Linked DNA regions of Homo sapiens. The protein of the gene in region 1 purifies or fractionates together with the protein of each later gene. This does not show direct contact. Each region holds a gene or a part of one and is shown on either strand. Other genes may lie near its edges.

The links.
Region 2: the proteins of FRMD3 (region 1) and LMBR1 purify together in Homo sapiens (affinity purification with mass spectrometry; one large-scale study listed by BioGRID and IntAct). This does not show direct contact.

What each region holds. Positions count from the first base shown.
Region 1 is NC_000009.12:83,304,329-83,308,153, reverse strand, and holds part of FRMD3 (FERM domain-containing protein 3), read left to right. Parts: intron 1-3,825. UniProt on the Homo sapiens protein: Putative tumor suppressor gene that may be implicated in the origin and progression of lung cancer.
Region 2 is NC_000007.14:156,757,082-156,760,906, reverse strand, and holds part of LMBR1 (limb region 1 protein homolog), read left to right. Parts: intron 1-3,825. UniProt on the Homo sapiens protein: Putative membrane receptor.

The DNA.
Region 1 (3,825 bases):
GGAAACCCATCAGCCCTGGGAAAACCCAGGAGCATAATTTGAACACCACTGGGTGAGATGACGCACAAAATGCTGTGCTAGGAATGATTGGAGAAGGTGATGTGTACCAGTAGACCTTCCTGTGACCACCACCACCTCAAGGTCTTTGTGTGCCTCCTGCATGTTTGGGGACTGATAAGGAAGGAGACCAGTTGGCCTTCGGAAAATCTACATGTCTAGAAGCCTTCACCCACATGAGAGTTCAGAGAGGGAAACACAGAGGGTTTGATGCTCTCAGTCTTTAGTTGGAGCCTTAGTGATTTTTTATTTTGTTTTAAAAAAAATTTTTTAAATGGAAATCTAATTTACATGCCGTAAAATTTACCCTTTTAAAGTATACAGTTTTGTGGTTTTTAGTGTAATTCACAAAGTGATATAGCCATTATCACTATCTAATTCCAGAATATTTTTATCCTTCCCAAAATAAACCTTATGCCAGTTAGCAGTCATTTCCCATTTCCTCCTCCCCCCAATCTCTGGCAACCACTAATCTACTTTCTGTTTTTATGGATTTACCTATTATAAGTTGTATATAAGTGGAATCATAAACGATGTGGCCATTTGTGCCTGTTGTCACAAAATGTGTCCAAAGTTCACCCATATTATAACATGTCTCAGTACTTTATTCCTGTTTATGATTGAATGACACTGCATTGTTTCAATAGACCACATTTGGTTTATCCATTCATCAGTTGATGCTCACTTGGGTTGTTACCTCTTTTTAGCTACTATGAGTAATGCTGCTACGAGCATTGGATACAAGTTTTTGTGTGGACAGTTCTCTTGGGCATATACCTAGGATGGAACTGCTGGGTCATAGGGTAACTCTATATTTAGCTTTTTGAGGACCTGACACATTGTTTTCAGTGCCTAAGCTTTTGGAACTCTTCTGTTCTTTCTTGAATGAAACCATCTGTTTCCTGTCAAAGGATAACTTACAGATGTTCAGTTAGTTATTTTCAGTGAATATTTTCTTGCATATGAGGGAATTAAAAATGGAGTGAAGAAACAAGGCAAAAACAAGATCTACCATGACATGATTTTATTACAGAATTTTATATATCTGTACTATGTATCTGTACTAGATCTGATTTCTATTTTTTTAACCTGTATTCATGATTTGTATTTAGGTTAAAGTCATGTAACATAAAATTAATTATTTTAAAGTGTACAATTCAGTGGCAGAGTATGTTTAAAATGTTGTCCAACCATCATTTCTATCTATTTCCAAACATTTTCATCAATCCCAGAAGGAAACTATATACTCACTGAGGAGTTACTCTCCCTTGTTCCTTTCTCCAAGACTTCTATTGGATTGTAGATTTTTCCATACCAACATGTCAGATCTGTAATCAGTTTGAACTCTCTGAGGGTAGGAACTTTTTCTGCTTTTTTTATTTCCTGAAGATCTCAGGCATTGAAAACACATTTACTAGCTCAGATTGATAAGGCATGATTCCTGTCCTCAGGAGATTGTTATTTCATGTAAGAGACCAAGGGGGAAATGAAAAAAAAAGAAAAAAGCTAGAGAGGAATCCAGAGGAGAGGGTGAATCTTGCTGCCAGGGGAGCTAGGAGGTAGAAGACCCTTTTAGGTGGAGGAAGGACATCCAAGCTCCCGTAGGGTACCATGGCAGGAATGTGGAGGATGCATTTTGTGGGACATGAGTGGCTACAAGGTTGGAGCAGAGGGTAGATGAGGTAGAAAAAGAGGTGATAAGGGACCAGGAGGTCTTGAGGCCAGACACGGATGGCTTGACCAGTGTGAAAGAGGCAACAGAGGTGCAGTAGGTGTGGTTGATCATTCTTTACGTGCAGACAGACCTATGGGAGGGGGTGATACAGGAGAACACCTAGCAGACAGGCCTTCCTTTAGAGCCACACAGCAAGTTTTGCTTGGAAGGACTTTGGCACAGCCTTGAAGATACTTTAGTGAAATCACTGGGTCCGTATCAAAGAATAACTTGGAGACATTCATTTGCTATTTCACGCACGTTGTTTTATCATATATGAGGAAGTCAGTTGGGAGACAGAGTTAAATAAAGGCAAAAACAAAATTGAGAGGAGAAAGGGAGAGAAAAAACCTGCAATATGGAAAATGTGTTTTACACATTTTGGGTAAGCAGATTAGCTGGCAGCTAGTAAGGAAGGTATTCTGGTAATTTTATCATGAACTAGGTAGGTCAACTTGGCATGTCAGAGAAGTCCCTTCCAGTCACTTGTGGATGCTTCAGAAGACTTGGAGGGTTTAGCTGTGAGCACAAGTGACAAACTGTATATGGTTGACCAGTCTTTGCATTGGCACTTTGGCTATAGTTAACCAAGCTACCCTCATCTCATTCGACTTCTAAACCTGAATATTTATAGCCGTCTGAGATTTGCCTGAACATTTTGTTCCTCCATTATCCCATAACCATCCTTGTTCCTGAGGAAGGAGGGGAAGTATCACTTGTTCTGGCCCAGCTGTGGGACCTTGGCCAGGTCACTTTAGTGCTGTCTGGTCTTAGCCTCCTCACCTGTAGAATGAATGGGCCTGGGACTGACCTGGGTGCATTTGCTTGTACCACTGGGGCATAGTGTAATGAGTGTGAGCTTTGGAAGTCAATGGGCTTGGTTCTAAGTCTTGACTCTGTCATTTATAGCAGTGTGGCCTGGAACAAAGCTGTTAATCTCTTGGAGCCTCATCTTTATTTTTCATCTGTGAAATGAGATTGAATTACCTGCCTTGCTGTGCTCAGTTCTGCCAGGCATATGAACCATTGATGAGCAGAAGCTGCTGCTGTATTACTGCCCCCTCTGCTAATGATGAGAGTATTTTGAGCAGCAGTTGGATGAAGAGCCCACTCCTTTTCATTGGGAAGACTCTGATTATGGTAACCTCAGGGGTATGCCTGCTTCCTTCACTGTGACCACCCTTCCCTGGGCAGAGGTCCTGGCCCTGCTTCTAGCTCTGTCCTGCTGGCCCTGCATTTTAATGGTTTCAGCTGGCAGAGCAAGGCCCTAATCTTGTTTCCTAGATGGTTTGTTCCTTCCATTTTTACTTCACCTGCATGGGAGCGGGGAGGCCCGGGGCCTCTGCTTGCGAATTCCCCAGTGTGCTTTTAGGACGCAAATGCGCTGCTGGTTGTCAGCTGGCCCAGGGCCACAGATCTGTTTTGAAAGCCCTGGCTCTGAGATCTGCCTGGGAATGGAGCCCAGACGCAGAAACTCTGATTTTTCCCGCCTACTCCAGACCCCAGGGGATCTCCAACACAGACTTATTCACCATTTAAGAGCTTCCTTTATACCATGTGTGGTCTGTCATGGTGCTGCCAACCCCAGAGCTCACTGTTTCTGGGTGCTGGTTCACTGAAAGCACACTGGACGCATTGAGGGATTCAGTGGCTCACTGATGTTTTCATTAACAGCATCTTTATCTCACAGTTTTTGCTGTGTACTGGATACATGGTTGAGGCTGTATGACACTGTGTTCCCAATTTGTTTTGGAATTGTGTGCAAGGGATAAAAGCAGTTCCTAATACATTTCTTATTCAGAGTTTGGTGTACATTTTGTCAAAGGAACAGTGTTATGCTTGGTAGGTAAGAACCCAGACTAGCTCCCTAAACAAGTGCCTCTCACACTTGAATGCACACATGAATGAGCTGGGGAGCTGGTTAAAATGTGCATTCTAATTCAAAAGGTCTGGGGTGGGCATGAGAGTCCATATTTTTAATAAATTCCAGGGGATACTGTGCGGTGGGTCCGTAGACCACACTCCAAGTAATAAGGTTCTAAATCAGCAGTTCT
Region 2 (3,825 bases), on another chromosome or scaffold:
TGTCTCACTAGTAATACTTATTAAATCGTTATAGTTATGTGTTTGTCTTCCTTGTCATGATTCATTTAGGGAAAATACTGAGGAAGTGTTATAGGGGCTATACTTTTAGTAAATGCTTGCTTAATTTTGAAAATCATAATATTTTTATATTTTAAAGATGAAGTTTAATTTTTTATTTTTAAAAAATGCGTAAATACATTTTACAAAAAGTATGTAAATGTTGTATACACACTTGTGTACCACACACATGCTGCCAAGTCTTGAAATTCCTTTCCCTTGTAAAGAGGTTTTGGGACATTGAATTCATTTAGTTTCTTCCTACATTTGTTGTTGTTTGTTTGTTTGTTTGGTCTTCTTTCTCCTTTTCTGCTTCCTGACCCCTAACTATAGGCAAATGTTTAAAGTTCCATCATTGGTCTAAATTTCTATTAATGCTCTGCTCCTAAACCATCTCTGCCATTTCCACATCACTTTTAAATGCCTAATTCTAATGAGGAAAAGACAATGGAAACAAATTCCAGTACATTTTAAGTGCTATAATTGAATACCCCATGGAGCTGAAAACTCAACGTATATAAAACGAAACTACTTACTTAGCTCCCTTCCCCAAGCTAATTTTTCTCCTTAACTTGTCTCTTATTAATGTTAAATATAGTGAACCCCAAGTTTTTCCTCAAAGAATCAGTATGTCAGTGTGTTCAGCTCTCTTCTTCTTCGATTCTCCATTTTAAAGTTTAACTTCCTGGTTCTCTTCTCCCCCTTGCCTCTGGTTTCAGTAAACAACTTTCCCACCAGTCCTAATCAGTATTTCACATCTGTTCGCTGGTCACCTGCTCCATCCTGACTCACCCCTGGTCACCTTCTTTGACCTGAGTCACCCCTGGTCACCTGCTTTGACCTAAGTCATCTTTAGTTACCTGTTCCTAACTGTCCTTCCTGCTAGACTAGTCACCCTGCCACTCTGGCTCATATGCCTGCTCCCTTTAAAATAGCCAGTCGGAATTAGCTTAGACTGTGTGGTCCAACCATTGTCAATAGGGGAACGACACACTAGTAGGGCCCTGTGTCAGAAATAAGAACTCCTTCCCCTCCCCTGTGCAGGTGTGCTCTCTCCATTACTCCATTTGCCAGTCGCACCCTTCTATAGAAGTAAAAATTGCCTTGCTGAGAAAATTAAATTTATGTTCGAGTGCTATTTCTTTGCAGCACCAGGGAACGAGCATTTTGCATTTCTAACATTAACAGTATCCTCAAAGTCTTGTCTTTGTTTCTTTTCTTGTTGGTAACATTCAGTAATAAAGATTATTTATTGAGTAATTGAGTGTATTATATATGCTAGCAATAAACACTATATTTTACACACATAATTTCATTTTATCCTGATGACAAACCTATAAGTTAGATAGTAGTATTCTTATTTTATGGCTAAACTAATGTCATTTCAGGAAGATTAAGTAGCTTGTACAAGATCAGAGATCTATGAGGGGGCAGAGTGTGAACCCAAGAGGCTGGTTTCATACCAGAAGCTGGTCTGCCATTCTATTTTGCTGTAAGCTCCAGAGCTGTAAAACCGATTTGTTTGCTGAGTGGACTTTACCCCTCCACTTCTGTGTTCTGCTTACAGTTTCCTCTAATTGAAATGCCTTTCTTTTGGTAATTTAAGCTGTCAGATAAGATGCTACTATGCTACTACCATCAAAAACACTGGTCGAAACTTTTGTCTCCCCATCTGGGAATAATTTTTCTTCCTTTGAACTTTTGTAATGTTTTATTTAAGCCACGGTTATGACTTTAACAAATCTTCTAATTATTTTTTAAATTCATCTGCTCTCTTCTGCTACACTAGAATATCAGCTGTTTGAGGTCAAGGACTATGTCTTACCCATATTTAAGCCCCCATTAGCCCATAGTAGTTGAGTATAGGGTTTGAAGGCACGTAACATTTCTTTGGTAACCCTGCTTCTTGGAATATAAAATGGAGATGAGAACAGTCTGTTTTTCGTAGGATTGTTGTAGAAATCAAGGAGGATGGTGCTCATAAGAACTTAACACAAATATATGTGTGTTATTTACATTGTCACTGCATTAGTCTATTATGCATTGGTATAAACCTGAGGCTGAGTAATTTATAAAGAAGAGAGGTTTATTTGGCTTATGGTTCTGCAGGCTGTACAAGAAGCATGGCACTGGGACCTGCCTCTGGCTAGTGCTTCAGGAAGTTTCCAGTCATGGCGAGAGGCAAACGAGGAGCATTTGTGTCACAGGGCAAGAGAGGGAGCAGGCGAGAGAGAGGTCCATACTCTTTTAAACAACCTGCTGTCATGTGAACAAATAGAGCAAGAACTCAGTTATTACTGTGTGGACAGCACCAAATCGGTTATTCATGAGAGATCCACCCCCATGACCCAAATACTTCCTACAGGGTCCCACCTCCAATACTGGGGATCAGATTTCAACATGAGGTTCTGAAGGGACAAATATCCAAACTACATCAGTCACTCATTCACACTAAGACATACCCGTGGTGATAAGTAATTCTTGGACAATTTGCATAAGAAAGATAAAAATCCTTTTGTATGCCTTAGACCTTATGTAAAAACTGTCAATTCTGATCCAGATAGTAGAAAGTGAAAAGAAGTGTTGATGGGAAAGGAACTTTGGATCAAGGCCCCCAAGGACCTGGTCCCAGACATGTGGGTTTTCTCTGGGATTCCTCTCCCCTAACCCACTGCATCCAGGAGATCCTCTCCGTGTACCACTCTTTCTCCTCGGGAGTAGCTCACATTCCAGCACTTGCCACTCATTTCAGCCTAAATGTTCCCTCTTTGGAGAGGGCTTGCTGGCTGGCCATTTAGGTATCTCTTCCCCTTTTCTTCCTATTCCTTTCTTCCTCATAGGATGGTCATTCTTTGTCATTATTTGTTTGTATATTTATTTGTTTATTACTGTTGATTATTATTTTAGTATTTGTTTTTTCTCACCTTCCAAGTCAGGCTTCTCAAGGATCGAGTTGGTATGTGTGCCAGTGATGAGTTCAGTGCTAGGTCATAGGGGACCGTAAAGATTTGTTGAAAGGCTGGGAATTATTGGATTGCTTCAAATAAATTTCACATCAGCTGTATAAATTGGACATCTGACAGGGATTGCATGATTTGAAAATCTGTTTTCTGAAAATACTTTAAAGTCTGAAAGGAGATGTATATATGGTTTCTGTCTTTTTGTCCATTAGCTCCTCACAATTTATTTTTTTTGCTGAGTGTGAGTAGTTTGGATGTGAGGATATGGAACACTGATATCAGCTCTAGACTTCTTTGAGATTTGCCCTACAGCTACGAAGATAATAAGGATCCTCTCAGAAGGATAGCTATGTTAACAAAACTAGAATTAAATCAATTTTAGGATTTTTAACAGTGCAGACAATATCCCATACAATTGGTAAATTATTAGTATGGTTTTTTCTTTTGAACTACTGTTGTTTGACTTGGTTTGTATGTAAACATACCACTTCTCTAGATTTTGGTCTATTGGATGATTTTGATAATACCAATCTTTAATATTCATGGAGTGTTTTTAGTACATAAAGATGATATAAATGGAAAGTGTTGCATGTTACTGATGTAGTTTATGGATTTCTTGTTTTAGACATTATGTAGGTAAATGTAAATGAGAAAACAAATGTTGGACTGGGTGTCTGTTCCTTCTATCTCTAAAATATTGGCTTGGGCCTATATTTACTGTAGTTATTTACCGTAGTTAGCTTTTTGGCTGTTTAAAATTGGTACATGTAGGCTGGGCGGGTGTGGTGGCTCACTTCTATAATCCCAG